2 linked regions of the Homo sapiens genome follow. The protein of the gene in region 1 interacts with the protein of each later gene in a pairwise test. Each region holds a gene or a part of one and is shown in the gene's direction. Other genes may lie near its edges.

Region 1 (8,295 bases):
GTGTATTTTCCTTTCATGATTTTTCTGGTTTTTAATAATTTCTGGCCAGGCGTGGTGACTCACGCCTGTAATCCCAGCACTCTGGGAGGCCAAGGCGGGCTGATCATCTGAGGTTGGGAGTTTGAGACCAGCCTGGCCAACATGGTGAAACCCTGTCTCTACTAAAAAATACAAAAATTAGCTGGGCGTGTTGGCAGGCACCTGTCATCCCAGCTACTCGGGAGGCTGAGGCACGAGAATTGCTTGAGCCTGGGAAGCGGAGGTTGCCATGAGCCAAGATCACGCCACTGCGTTCCAGTCTAGGCGACAGAGTGAGACTCTGACTCAAAAAAAAAAATTATTATTATTATAATTTTTTTGTGTAGAGATATGGTCTCACTCTGTCACCCAGGCTGGAGTGCAGTGGTGTGATCACAGCTCACTGTAACCTCAAGCTCCCAGGCTCGAGCAAATCCTCCGACCTCAGCTTCCTTAATAGCTGGGACTACAAGTTTGTGCAACCGTGTCTGGCTAATATATATTTTTTAATTAAAAAAAATTTTTAAAGATTGTCTTTATATATGATTTTGTGACTCTATTTTTTTTTCTTTTGTTTTGAGACAAGGTCTTGCTCTGTCACCCAGGCTGGAGAGCAGTGGCGTGATCCTAGCTTATTGCAGTCTCAAACTCTTGGGCTCAAGTGATCCTCCTACCTTAGCCTCCAGAGCAGCCAGGACCACAGGCATCTGCCATAACGCCCGGCTAATTTTTGTACCATTTGTAGAGACATGGTCTGAATTTGTTTCCCAGACTGGTCTCAAACTCTTGGGCTCAAGTGATCTGCCCACGTCGGCCTCCCAAAGTGCTGGGATTACAGACGTGATCCAACATGCCTGGGCAAGAATACCTTTCGTTGAGCAAATTGTTGAGAGGTAGAATGAGGAAAACTTTTGGCTAAAAGGGACCCCAAGATATCCCAAGTGGCATATTTATAGATGTGAAAGTGATTCCACAGCTGGGCATGTCAGATCAAAATTCTCCATGGATCAGGAATGCCTCCTTTTCCTTTTCTGTCACCACCGGTCACATTTGGCTACTTAATTTCTGGGCTCCAGTGCAGCATGGAAACGCGAGGCCCTTTGTTCAAAAAGTGTTCGAATTTCTTTTCTTCCTTCTTTTTTTTTTTTTTTTTTTTTTTTTGAGACGGAGTCTCGCTCAGTCACCCAGGCTGGAGTGCAGTGACACGATCTCGGCTCACTGCAGCCTCCATCTCCCAGGTTCACAGTGTGGAGAGGCAGGGCACGGTGGCTCATGCCTGTAATCCCAGCACTTTGAGAGGCTGAGGCAGGAGGATCACTTGAGCCCAGGAGTTTATGACCATCCTGGGCAGCTTAGCAAGACCCTGTCTCTAAGTAAAATTAAAAAGTTATAGCCAGGTATGGTGACACACACCTGTAGTCCCACCTACTCCAGAGGCTGAGACAGGAGGATTGTTTGAGTCTACGAGTTTCAGGCTGTGGCGAGCTATGATCATGCCACTGTACTCCAGCCTGGGCAATAGAGTGAGACCCTGTTTCTCTCTTTCTTTCTCCCTTTCCCTCTTTTTTAAAAAAAAGACATTGTGGAGAGTGTGTGTGTGAGTTTAGGGTGAGGGGGACTAATTGCTGTTCTAAGAGTTTCGTAGTTGGGGGGGTGATAAGGAGGGGATGGGGGGTGATGAGGAGAGGGATGGTTGGTGGGTGGGCCTCTTATCCCAGGAGATAAGCCAAATTGAAATGAAGGCGCAAAACAAGGGAAACAAAATGGGACTAACCGTGGTGGCATTTCCTGGCCTTGGGGCCTGAGGGAGGGAAGACTGTGGAATTTATTTAGAAAACTTCCAAACCAGCGGTTATGAGTCTTTTTTACTATTCTGGCCTGTTGCTCTTGTTCTTTTCAGAATTATAAATGTGTTTGTGTGGCTGTTTGATCTCAAAGCAATGCTCAGAAGATGCAGTGTCTCGAAATCCCAGAAGATAAGATGTTACCACATGAAAGATGGTCTCAATAAAGGGGGAGAGGCGGTGGCCGAGGCCTTAATTTCCAAAACGAGAAACTGGGGCCCACCCATCTTTTAAAGGTCGTCAAAAGAAAGCTCCCATCCTCCCATCCCCCACACCTGTGTGTTGACTCTGTAAAGATGCAGTTTCCTCACTTTGGGAGGAGAGGCCGTGGTTTTTGCAGGAATTGCGCCGCTGCCGAATTCAGCCATTGCCTCTTGGAGGTTTAGGATGCCCCAGGCCTTGTTTTCCCTCAAAGCATTCCATTGGCAATCACGACCAACCATGCTCCTTGAGGATTTCTGTACACACTGGCTTTTCCTGGTCTTGTAAGTTTTTATACGAGTCAGTTTTCACCATAAATCATGGAGGTGGGTCTGGGGCTGTGACGGCGAGTCCTCGACGTTCAACCCGGATGTAGGTCACTCCAGACCCCCAGGGTGCCCTGTCGTTCCCTTTGCTGGAAGTTTCAACAAAGCCAGAAGCAGATGTCAGGGGTTCCCGGGGTCATCTGGGAGGGATGTCCGCTGAGTTTAGGGGCAAGCTGGGACTGCTGCATTTCTGTTCCTGTACGTCAGAGGAAACTAGCAACACGCCTCAAACCACTTTACACCATGTCTCAGTGTTAAACCAGAGCCTGTTTTCACAAACACCTCCTGCGATCTCATTACAGCCCCACCCTGCCCTCCTGCTTCTGTGGCCTTCTCTACTTTGCTTCTTGCTCCTCTTAAAGACCTTCTGTCTCATCTGTCTTTTCTGGGGTTGGGCCTTTCCCCTTCTCTATAACCTTCTGTGACTCCCACGGCTCACAGCTTTGCTGTATATTAGGAGCAGAAAGCAAGCTTCATTACATCATTTAAAATTTTTTAGTAGCTACATTTTTTTTTTTTTTGAGATGGAATCTCGCTCTGTGGCCCAGGCTGGAGTGCAGTGGTGTGATCTCAGCTCGCTGCAACCTCTGCCTCCCAGGTTAAGTGCTGGGATTACAGGCGCACGCCACCAGACCTGGCTAATTTCTGTATTTTTAGTAGAGATGGGGTTTCACCATGTTGGCCAGGCTGGTCTCGAACTCCTTACCTCAAATGATCCACCCATCTCAGCCTCCCAAAGTGCTGGGATTACAGGCATGAGCCACCGTGCCTGGCCGCCACATTTAATGTATTTATTTATTGATTTTTGAGACAGAGTCTCACTCTGTTGCCCAGGCTAGAGTGCAATGGCGCAATCTCAGCTCCCTGCAACCTCCACCTCCCGTGTTCAAGTGATTATCCTGCCTCAGCCTCCTGAGTAGCTGGGATTACAGGCGCCCAATATCACACCTGGCTAATTTTTGTATTTTTAGTAGAGACGGGGTTTCACCATGTTGGCCAGGCTGGTCTCAAACTCCTGACCTCAGGCGATCCGTCTGCCTTGGCCTCCCAAAGTACTGGGATTATAGTCGTGAGCCACTGTGTCTGGCCTCTTTTTTATTTATTTTGTTTTTATTTATTTATTTTTGAGACAGTCTCGCCCAGGCTGGAGTGCAGTGGCGCAGTCACGGCTCACTTGAACTCCTGGGTTTAAGTGATTCTCCCACCTCAGCCTCCCAAGTAGCTGGGACCACAGGGGTGCACCACCATGTCTGGCTAATTTTTAATTTTTTTGTAGAGACAGTGTCTCCCTATGTTGCTCAGGCTGATCTAGAATGCCTGGGCTCAAGCCATCCTCCTGCCTCAGCCTCCCAAAGTGCTGGGATGACAGGTGTAAGCCACCATGCCCGGCCTAGTAGCCACATTTTGAAAGGTACAAAGAAACAGGTGAAATTAACAATACATTTTACTTAACTTCATATATCTAAGCTGTGGTCATTTTAATATATCAATATAAGAAATTATTAATGAGATATTTTACATTCATTTTTTCCTACTAAGTTTTGAAACCCAGGGTGTATTTTTACATTGACATTCTATCCCAAATTGAATGCTAAATTTTTATCAAAAAACATTTTGATCTATATTCAGTGTTCATCAAATTTACCATTGAAAAAATGATTCATATATTCAAGTTGTCCCAGACTTACATAAAAGCTTCCCAATAATTGAATTGTTAGTTTTCACATTTAAATTGCTTAAACTTAAATACAAGTAAAAATTCATTGGCAAGTAAAAAGATGAAAAAGAAGCTAAAACAAAAAAAATTCAGTTCTTCACTCACACTAGCTCATTTCTTTTTTTCTTTTAGACATAGAGTGTCGCTCTGTCACCCAGGCTAGAGTGCAGTGGCATGATCATGGCTCACTGTAGCCTCCACCTGCTAGGCTCAAGTGATCCTCCTACCTCAGCCTCCTGGGTAGCTGGGACCAGAAGTGTGCAACACCATGCCTGGCTAATTTTTTTAATTTTTAAAATTTTGTAGAGAGAGGGTATCACTATGTTGTCTAGGCTGGTCTTGAACTCCTGGGCTCAAGTAATCCCACTGCCTCGACCTCCCAAAGTGCTGGGATTGCAGTCATGAGCCCCCGTGCCCGGCCACAAGCCACATTTTAGACGCCCAATAACCTTACGTGACTGGTGGCTGCTATATTGGGCAGCAGATACAGAGCATTTCCATCCTCACAGAAGATTCTGTTGGACAGCACTCTGATAGAAAGAAGTCTTGAACACGTGTTCTCCAAGGGACTTTCAAAGTTTTCTAGAATGCAGCCCCAACCTATCTTTACTTACTGACTTTCTTTTTATCACGTTCACTCCCCCGCCTCTATTCCACTTTGTTTCGTTTGTTTGTTTTTGAGACAGAGTCTCGCTCTGTTTCCCAGGCTGGAGTGCAGTGGAGTGATCATGGCTCACTGCAGCCTCAACCTCCTAGGATTAAGCAATCCTCCTGCCTCAGCCTCCTAAGTAGCTGGGATTACAGGTGTGTGCCACTACACCTGGCTACTTTTTTTATTCGTTGTAGAGACAGGGTCTCACTATGTTGCCCAGGCTGGTGGTGAATTCCTGGGCTCAAGTGATCCTCCTGCCTCAACCTCCCAAAGTACTGGGATTACAGGCATGAGCCACTGCACCCAGCCCTTTTGTTTTGTTTTGTTTTAGAGATGGGGGTCTCACCATGTTGCCCAGGTTAGTCTTGAGATCCTGGGCTCAGGCTATCCTGCCACCTCGGCTCCACAGAGTGCTGGGATTACAGGTGAGCCACCGCACCTGGTCTCTGTTTCCACTTTGAGGTGAATACCCTTTCTTCGGTTCCTCCAGAGAAGTCTCCTCTTTGGGGCTTGGTTTAGAGGCAGGGCTTCTGAGAAGGACTCTACCCTTCTCCCTGCAGTGGGATTAATTGCTGCCTTGGCTTCCCACGAGTTCTAGAAAATGAGGCAGACAGTGTCGGGAGAGGGGAGTGGTGGTTGTGGCTCGCTGCCCCGGAGCCTCATTTCCCATTTCTCCCGAGACAGGTTTGAATGGCTCTTCTAAGGCAGCCTGAACCCTGCCCAGTTAGAAAAACAGCCACACAAAGAACAGCACTGTGTCTGCTTCCAGCTGCCCCATGGCTGCTGGATCATGGAACATCAGACAGGAGCACACTCTGGGTGCAGGGTGTAATTCTAGGCGAGCAGCAGCTCTGCCAGGGCTGGAGGGAAATCCTTTCTTTGCCCTCACAAAAGAAAATGTGTGCCTGGCTGCTCTGGTGCTCATTTTTCAAAATGAGAACTGGAGTCTATGTGTATTTCCTTCTTAAAAAGCTATAACACAGAGGCTGGGCGCGGTGGCTCATGCCTTTAATCCCAGCACATTGGGAAGCCAAGGCGGGAGGTTCACTTGCCCCCAGGAGTACAAGACCAGCCTAGATAGCAAAGTGAGACCCCCATCTCTACAAAAAATGAAAACATTAGCCGGGCGGGGGGGCACATGCCTGTAGTCCCAGCTACCTGGGAGGCTGAGGCAGGAAGATCACCTGAGCCTGGGTGGTGGAGGCTGCAGTGAGCTGAGATCACACCACTGCACTGTAGCCTGGGTGACAGATCTTGTCTCAAAAAAATAAAACAAAACAAAAAACAAAACTATAACACACATACAAAAAAGTATATACATTTTAATTGTACAACTGAGATTTTTACAGACTGAACATACCTCTGTAACCAGCCCCCAGGTGAAGAAAGAGAACAGGACCCGCCCCCCGCAAAGGCCCCCTCATACCCCTTTCCAGATTCTTCTTCCTCTTCCAAGAGTAACCGCTCCATGGATTCATTTTGCCTATTTCTGACCTTTATTTAAATAGCATCATACAGTGTGCATTTTGTGGCATCTGGCCCCTTTGCTATTTGTGATAATTTGTGGTTGGTTTTTGAATGCCTTTATCTTTTCCGTTACCTGAAACAGTTAGTGAAAACCACAGTGGTTTAAAAACCAAAAAAACCACAAAAAAACAAACAAAAAAAAACAACGAAGAAGAAACACCAGATATGGAAGGTACGTAGGTCATTGTCTGGTAATGGTTTAAGATGTGAAGAAGAAATGACCCTTATTTGGTTGATGTTTCCACTTTGGATTTTCCAGGTTTTGGTGATTTTGGGTAGTAATTATTTACTTTTTGATTAATTCTGGGGTCTTGAAGGGACATTAACCCTCTTCCTAGCTTTTGGACAAAGCTGGATGGAAGTCATTTTCTCAGAATTTCTGTTTGCCAGAAAGAAAATTGAAGACTTAGGTGAAAAAGAGAGGGAGAGATCAACTGAATTTCTTATCTGGTATGTTCTGTTTCTGTTTTAGGTAAAATGTCGGTTCCAGGACCTTACCAGGCGGCCACTGGGCCTTCCTCAGCACCATCCGCACCTCCATCCTATGAAGAGACAGTGGCTGTTAACAGTTATTACCCCACACCTCCAGCTCCCATGCCTGGGCCAACTACGGGGCTTGTGACGGGGCCTGATGGGAAGGGCATGAATCCTCCTTCGTATTATACCCAGCCAGCGCCCATCCCCAATAACAATCCAAGTACGTGTGGCCTCCCAGGCCCCCCTTACCATTCCTTGGCCCTCCACCCTGGGAATCAGGAGAGTGACCGAAGTGACTCTGCCAAAGAGTCTAAGTGAAGTGCCAGTACGTTCCAGTTTTACCCCCTTACCTTGAAATTCCACACGCAGTCTTTTAGATTCCATGTTGGTGAGGCTCACAGCTTTTCCGTAATAAAGTATGGTTTAGGATCTTTCCCATGGTCATCATATACGAATCTTTTGGCACATCTCTTGGAGGCACAACCAACTTTCTTCTGAGAATGGGAGTTTGTGTCTTAAGGGCCCGCACACTTCCTCCTGAGGTCTGATGCAGAACTTCTGCCCTGAGGCCAGGGCCGAGGTAGGAATAGGGAGGAGAAGAAACCGTCCTGAGCAATGTGTGATTGTGTTTTCATACCAGCTCACCCTCAATGCAAGTTGCTCTTCTGCTTTTGAGCAACTAGATGGTCCCTGTCCTTTGGTGCTTCCTTCCGCCCAAGGGTGCCCTGGTATGTCACTGCTTTAGTATCACAGGTAGTTCTGAAAGAAATCTTTAGCTCAGAGAGGGGGCCCGTGAATCAGACTGCCTGGGTTCACATAACCTCCTTGTGCCTCAGCTTCCCCATTTGTAAAATAGGTTTCATCAAGTACCTATTTATAAATATCAGTGAGTTGTTAACATGAGAGGAAGTTGTGTGTGCCAAATACAGAGTACTCGTTTGATAAAAGTGAACTCTTATTGTTGTGTTCAAGTTATTTTGAGCTGGAAGAGGATGAGATAATGACTTTAGATTCTTAGACCATCCTGTGATCAATAAATAGTTTCTTTTTCTTTTTCTTTTTTTTTTTTTTTGAGACAGGGTCTCACCATGTTGCCCAGGTTGGAGTGCAGTGGTGCAGTCATGGCTCGCTATAGCCTGGACCTCCTGGGCTCAAGTGATCCTCCCACTTCAGTCTCTGGAATAGCTGAGACTACAGGCATACAGCACCACACCTGGCTAATTTTTAAATTTTTGTGTAAATCGGGTCTCACTGTTTTTCCAGGCTGATCTTTAACTCCTGAGCTCAAACGATCTTCCCACCTCCCTTGGCCTCCCAAAGTGTTAGAATTATCAGCATGAGTCACAGAGCCTGGTCCAAATAACTTATTCTTGAACCCCAAAAACACTTAATAAAATGTATGAACAGGGTGTGGTGGCTTGCGCCTGTAATCCTAGCTACTGAGGAGGCTGAGGCAGGAGGATCACCTGAGGCCAGGAGTTCCAAACCAGCCTGAGTGACATAGTGAGACATTGTCTCTATGAAAATAAAATT
Region 2 (7,647 bases), on another chromosome or scaffold:
AAGTAAAAACATCCTTTTAGTTTTCTTAATCCAGTCTCCCAAACGTATTGACAGTAGATGTGTGCGTGTTTATGTGCTAATAACCCTGTAACAATCCAAACAGCTGGATTTCACATGACACACCTTGACAAACACAGACTTTTATAAGTGAAATGATGTCGTTTATTGTTTGCAAATTGCTAACTGGAGTTAGGAGCTACAGAATGATGCCAGTAGATCCAGTCTGAAAACAATCTCTCACAACACATGGAAGCTTTTCAAGTGCCTAGGTGAAAAATGATAGACAGTAATTTAAAGATCAAAAGCAAACATTCTTCATTTAAAAATAGGACATGAAAGGAAGGACAAACGTCCTGTTGTGACAGTTCTGGTCTTCACTCAGTGCTTTTCTTTTTCAGCTGGGCACCAAAGAAGGTTACCTCACCAAACAGGGAGGCCTGGTCAAGGTAAGGAAGTGTGGTTTTGCTCATGCCAGCCACAGAAAAAAGAGAACACGTCATGTAGACTCAATTCTCATCTTGATAGTTTTTCTTGGAAGCATAATTGCCTGCTCATTTTAACCCATTTGTAATATTCACCTGACTCAAGAGTTCATTTTTATGGCTCATTAGTCAAAATTCTGGAAAATGACTTGACTGTTCTTTGACAAAGCCCTGCATAGGTGTAGCCTGCAGTTAAAAGTCAATAAAACATAGTCCTCATAATGGAATGATTGAGGATGAAGATAGCAAGTTTACTCTAGAACATCTTTCGTTCTTCTTCTAAAACAAGGAAGAAGTCAAAATTGTATAAAATGTTTCTTTAAGGATAGGCCAAAAACATCACTGATGCTACTGAAACTATGTTATAAAATCCAAAGAAAAACACAATTTAAGCTCTTACAAGTTCAGAGTATCCAAATGTTCCCCATTTATGAGACTGTATCTTTAGAATTCCTTTGTTTCATCTCAATGTGCCAAGAAGACCTTCATGGAATGTGTCTGCTCCTTCTCGTTTTAAGAGTCACGGTATTTAACCTCTCACAGACACTGACATGCTTGGAATTAGCCTAAATAATTTCATTATTTGTGTCCCTTCTAGATCGAATGCTCCCTGAGGACAGAGAGTATTCATATTCATAGCATATTTATGTTTAAATCCTCTGTTACTTCTTTTAACTGGGCACATTGACACCCAGGATAGAGTAGGATGCTGTTTGTATATAAGAAGGTAACAGCGGGCAATGATGGTTTTTACCACTGATACCTTGGAGTTCTTAGGCAAGGTTTAGAATATCATGTGAGTCAGGGTTCCTAAACCTCAGTTTTGTTGTTTGTAAGACAAGAATAATAATACTGGCATTGTTGTGTGAGGATTGGATATAATATATAAAGCCTCCAATGATAGTATATCGTCCATATTAGGTACTCAAAGAACAATATTTATCTTTATTATAGAGTTAATAAAATGGAAATTGTAGTGGTTTGTTATAAGTCACATTGAATATTTATGATAGACTAATTCTTTTTGTATTTAAAAATATACTAATGATATATCTGCCTTCATTATGAGCTTAATGCATGAAATTAATTTTTATAGATATTTTGAAACTTTTTTCTCAGAAATGACACAAAAGAATTTTTTGAGCTTAATGCATGAAATTATTTTAATTTTTATAGATATTTTGAAACTTTTTTCTCAGAAATGACACAAAAGAATTTTTTCAGGGTTATAGTATTTAATTTTTTAGATACTTTTAAAATGAAAGTAAATCATCTGGTTCAAATATTACATTCCTGTATTCAAAACTTTGTGTGTCTGTGTGTTTGTGTGTGTGTGTGTTTTTCTCAGACCTGGAAAACAAGATGGTTTACTCTGCACAGGAATGAACTGAAATACTTCAAAGACCAGATGGTGAGAAACATGATAATATATTTTTCCTTTAAAAATCAATTCTCTAGATGAAAGAAACTTAGGTCTTTAAAATCTCTGAAATTATTTTTATATCCACCTGAAATACCTAATAAATGATTGGAGATATGAATTCTTGATTCCTGAAATGAGCAGAGTTATTTTGCAAAGATGAGATGTATGTCCCAGAAATTGCTTTCTTGGATTGGCTAAACCATAGTTCCCCAGGGCACGTAATTCCCTCTGTTTAGGACAATGTAATTATTCTCTTGCCACAATTTATTAACTGTCTCTTTGCAGCAATTTGTCCCTTTATTAAAAATACAGTTTCTCCATTTCCCATGCCCATTTCATTAAGCCAATTTAAAATTATTTTTTCTCACTTTTCTTATATAACATTTCTAAGAAAGTAGAAGTTTTAAAAAATGAGAGAAAAATATACCTCTCTTCCATGTGTTAAAATCCATCTTCATCAGTAAGTTGATAAAGGTAGTAACTTAATGCCCAGTTTTATGAAAGGCTCATTCCAAAACCAAGGACTTCCCTTGGTAGGGCTTTTCTATTGTCAGTCCTGTTAGTGAAAGGAAATATGACAATTGCACATAGTGGAAAACTTGTGAGGGGAATAAGTGAGGGACAGATTTGTCTGTTTTTTTTTTTTTTTTTAATGGTGACATACGTTGCTTTTTATTTTATTTAGTCACCAGAACCAATTCGGATCCTAGACCTAACAGAATGTTCAGCTGTACAATTCGATTATTCACAAGAAAGGGTAAACTGTTTTTGGTAAGTTGTTTTATAAAGAAAACGTTTTTTAATGTCTTCTTGCCAGACACTTATTTTGGCTAAGGAATAGAAAGCTGTATATCTTAATGTCTACAAAGATCAGATATGAGGGGCATGCCTGCATGTAAGGAGTGTTTTCAGCTGAGTGTGACATAACACCTCATTTAAAGTAGCTTAAACAAACAGGCAGGTCAGCTCAGCTTATGTTGCGTACTGGAGAAGTATGACTCACATAGAGGATGCCATTCACATCTTAGACAATTTAATTTCTTTGAGGCTTTCTCCCTCATTTTATTTATAACTTTGTTGACTCTAATGATAGGTGATTTGTATTGTTATGACAATTTCTGGCAAATGGCACAAAAATATTTTGTTCTAACATAATCAGTATGTTATAAAAATGTTCTAACTGGGAGAAGAGTCTTGAGAAAGGAATGTCTTATTTCCCACTACCTTTTATTTTAAAGTTTTTCAAGCATACACAAGTTGAAAGACATACGTTTACATACCCTCCATAGCAGTTATTAATATATCTTACCATATTTGCTTTATCCTAGTCTATCCACTTTTTTTTTTTCCTGAACCAATTGAAAGTAAGTTGCAGACATCATGGCACTTTATTCCTAAAGACTTTAGTATGTGTCTCTTAAGAATAAAATATCACATATAGGACTACAGTATCATTATTACAACTGAAGAAATTAATGTTAATTCTATAATATCAACTGAGAATGGGTGTCTTTTTAAAATTTGCATAGACATGCCCTGTGAGCTAGCAGAGCTTTATTTTTCTCATATATCCAAAAATCAGGAGGCAAGCAGCTATGGTGACAAGGTCAGGTCCAGGGTCTCTACTGTTCTCCTGGCCTTTTCTCATGCTGGCTACTTCAGGATTTGAGTGTCTACTACACCTGTAGGTCTCATATTTTCAACAAAGTACAAAGAAAGATGTAGGGATGATATTACCCGTGTCTGTCCCTTTTTATCAGGAAAACCAATGTTTCTCCAGAAACTCCCCTATGAGACCGGGTGCCATGGCCATCCCCAGCAGCTGATCATAATTGGCTTAAACAAATTAGGATTTATTGCTTGGGGTTCTGTTAGCAAAAGAAAGGGATAATTATCTGTATTAATAGACAGTTAATAATGTCTCCCATAGGGAGTACCAAACAATGACAATGACAGAAACCAGTTTTCGAGTATATGCACTGTATCACTCCCTCCCCACCACTGTCCACTCACTCTCCACTAGACCTCACATCCAGGTATTAGCTTCTATGCACAGAGACTTACCTCTTACCTATTCAACTTTAATTGCTGGTATCAACAAAATACACTGCTTAGGCTTTAAGATATAGAAACCCTTCTGAAGGCTTTTTCACAAAAAGAAAAAAGATTTTTGGTATTTTTGCATCTCAACTGTAAGTAAGGAAGTATGTTCAGTATGTAATTTAGGGCTGACCTTATTGCTTACATAATTTTAACTAGGTAATCAGACACAGTCAAATGAAAAATTACTATACATTTAGGAAAAGTATTTTGTGCCAGTAGGAAAGTTCTTATTCCCTGCAGCAGAGACTGACTCTTGGCCAGAGATGGGAGAAATAACTAATTTAGTTTTATTGTCTCTTTTTATTGTCCCAATAGTTGAAATTGCCCACAACCACAGAAGGCAGAGTTATCCTCGTTGAAGCAAGCTAACACAAATGAGTTCTTTTTAGCAAACTTCTCTGTCTTGCCTATTCTTTGGATCATAGCACAAGTTTTTGAGAGATCAGCTGAATGAATACATAAGTGTTAGAGTTAACCTAAGACATGAACCACAAAAGGATCTAGGGGTGTCCTGAACATGTTTCTTTCTTCTTCAAAGTCTTATTCGAGTATATACATCTGACTTGGAATAATAATATGAATCTACAACTTCCTTAACATTTCTGCAGTTTGCTGGCAGGAGTAGGTGCATATATACCAGCACTTCAAGGTACTTACCTGCATCCTTTATCAATTCTTTTTTCCCTTGCAATACTCTAATTAGTGTTCAACTAATATATATATATATATATATATATAATATATATAATATATTATATTATATATTATATTATATATATTATATATATATATATATATATAGCTAATGATCTGCAATATCTTATGTTCTTTCTTTTGTCCTATTAGTTTGGTATTTCCATTCAGGACATTTTATCTCTGTGCAAAGACCGGAGTAGAAGCTGATGAGTGGATCAAGATATTACGCTGGAAATTGGTGAGAATTTTTAAGCCTTCAGATGTCAAGTCTTGAGAAATAACATGTTGATGATTTCAAACATATTTCTATCAAAAGAGTCAGACTAGACCCAAGAATCAAAGAGATGTCTGGGTGTCTACTTCCAGGCTTGCGGAACAGTCTGTTAATTCTTCTGGGACATGAGAAGAGATGGAGACAGGATTGTAAAAAAGAAAGAATTAAGCCATATTTGGGTCTTAGACATAGAGCCTTAGCCTAATAACCACCTATCAGACTTCCTATAAGGTGTGTCAGTTAGTTCAGTTTTGTCTGGAGGGGGACATTTAGAACCAGAAGGTCTGACAGAGGAAAGCTGACATACTTCTCTAGTTGAAAAGCCTTTTAAATTGTTAGAGAAGAAAGTTTGCCAGAGGCACTTAGCTTAGTTTCCAATGTAAGCATCACTTTGTGCAGGTCAAGGACAAAAGCTGATTTATTTTGTCTGCTCTCTGTATATCTCCCGAGGAGAAGACTGAGTGAGTACTTATAAAACTTCACCAATCTTCTACTTGTTTTTCATGTGCTTGCAAGTTAGTGAGTTCTTAGCCAAGAACTTGTCCTTAAAGCTGACTAAAATTTCCTATAAATACCATCTTAAAAACTTTGATGATTTCTTTTTTTCTATTTTTTTTTTTTTTTTTTTTTGAGACAGAGTCTCGTTCTGTTGCCCAGGCTGGAGTGCAGTGGTGTGATCTTGGCTCAGTGCAACTTCTGCCTCTTGAGTTCAAGTGACTTTCATGTCTCAGCCTCCCGAATAGCTGGGATTATAGGAGCTTGCCACCACGCCTGGTTAATTTTTGTATTTTTAGTAGAGAAGGGGTTTCACCATTTTGGCCAGGGTGGTCTCGAACTTCTCACCTCAAGTGATCCACCAGCCTCAGCCTCCCAAAGTGCTGGGATGACAGGTGTGAAGCACCATGCCCGGCCAGATGATTTCAAACAAAATATTTTTCTTAATTATTTTTTGCAAAATTGTCTGATATATATGAAAATTCCTTTCTAGATACTGAGACTTTTGCTTTCAGTTATGTTTTCAGTTTGAAATTCAAATAAGTATACCATTCATTTTTAAATTCTTCCAATGTATCAGTGAGGGATAATTTGTCTTGTGAAACCTTTGCTCAGATATGGATTAATTTCTTATTCTTTCTATTTTTAATTATCAAAGTAACACAAAATCATTATACAAGAATTATAGAAAAATATATCAAGTATACACACTTTTAGACTTCTCTCTTTACACATAAATATTTAAAAACAAAATTTAATCACTTGCTAGAAGTAAAAACCACAATGATGTACCACTACACACCCTTCAGAACGGATACAATGAAGACTGTCAATATCAAGTATTAGCATGAATGCGAAGGAACTAGAACTCTCCTACATTGCTAGAGGGAATGAAAATGTGTACGGCTACTTTGAAAAATTGCTTGGCAGTTTCTTTTAAAACTATACATATACCTACACTATAATTCAGCATTTTCATGCTTAGGTATATCTAAGAGAAATGAGTGCATGTATCCACTAAAAAATGTTACAATAATGTTCATAGCATCTTTATTGATAATATACAAACTCCAAACAAAACAAATCACTTGCCAGTGTTCTATATTTGCTCACTTCACTTAGCAATATATTATGAACATTTTTCCATATTATCAATTTTAGATCTATATCTTCCTTTTAACTCATTGAATAGTATTGCATTTTATAGATTACTGTAAGTATTAGACCAATTCCCAATTTGTACATGTTTTAGCAATCACTTTACAATATGTGTCCTAAAAAAAAATACAGAAAATTTTTCTGGACACATGATAATTAGCTTATAGTTGGGGGTGAGCACATGATAATTAACTTAGAGTTGTATGACATCCTTACTAATCAACATGTCTTATTTAATATTTGTTAGAAGCCAGGGTTCATTACAATCACTCAATAATGGATACACGTGTGTGTACTTTATTACAGTCACAAATAAGAAAACAGCTCAACCAAGGGGAAGGCACGATCCGATCTCGGTCGTTCATCTTTAAATAGATCTTTCTTGCCAAGGAATGCTCTGGCCCAGGAGCAAGGTGGAATGTTTCCCTGACGCTGTGATCTGCAGCAGGCTTCAAATGAAAACCGACTAAGGATTTTCTTTCAAAAACAAATCAGAAGCAGATGCTGATTGGGACCCATATACCACGTTGCTGACTCACGTTGCTGCCCTTCCATGATGTTGCCATCTCCTTGAGAACACTGAAGCAATCACCATTCTGATAGAAAGTGCTTAAACCACCACTCTTAGGTCTGCTCACTCTTAGAACACACAATGGAAGAGGAAGGGTTTTTGTTTTCACTCATTGTGGTCCCCAAGCCTATTGACACTAGTTGCCTAGAGTCCCACTGTGAGTCATGGTCAGCCTGTCTGACATCCAGGTTGTGCTATTAACCAAGAAGGAAACAGATACTTGGAGGCTTAGATGACTTCTGCAGGATTTATATTCAGATAGAAAACATCAAATATTTTCAGGGGAGAGGTTTTTTTTTTTAATTTTTCCCCCTTTATACAAAAAAAAAAGAACATTTCCAAAACTAAAATAGAAAATGCTTGTGGCATTTATTTTCTCTTTTTAAAAGGTTCAGAAATTTGGCAGGTCCTTTGCTTCTAATGACAAAACTGTGAGAGCTAGATG

Evidence for each region. Proteins that work in one complex are often made in the same cells at the same time.
Region 2: the proteins of LITAF (region 1) and DAPP1 interact in binary tests that used the Homo sapiens proteins (3 or more experiments, as listed by UniProt).

The regions. Positions count from the first base shown.
Region 1 is NC_000016.10:11,555,198-11,563,492, reverse strand, and holds part of LITAF (lipopolysaccharide-induced tumor necrosis factor-alpha factor), read left to right. Parts: intron 1-2,326; exon of another isoform or gene 2,327-2,347; intron 2,348-6,757; coding exon of another isoform or gene 6,758-6,762; coding exon 6,763-6,982; intron 6,983-8,295.
Region 2 is NC_000004.12:99,861,180-99,868,826, forward strand, and holds part of DAPP1 (dual adapter for phosphotyrosine and 3-phosphotyrosine and 3-phosphoinositide), read left to right. Parts: intron 1-398; coding exon 399-446; intron 447-1,830; coding exon 1,831-1,893; intron 1,894-2,590; coding exon 2,591-2,676; intron 2,677-4,546; exon of another isoform or gene 4,547-4,616; coding exon of another isoform or gene 4,617-4,657; intron 4,658-4,854; coding exon 4,855-4,942; intron 4,943-5,377; coding exon of another isoform or gene 5,378-5,395; exon of another isoform or gene 5,396-5,439; intron 5,440-6,937; coding exon 6,938-7,006; 3' UTR 7,007-7,647. UniProt on the Homo sapiens protein: May act as a B-cell-associated adapter that regulates B-cell antigen receptor (BCR)-signaling downstream of PI3K.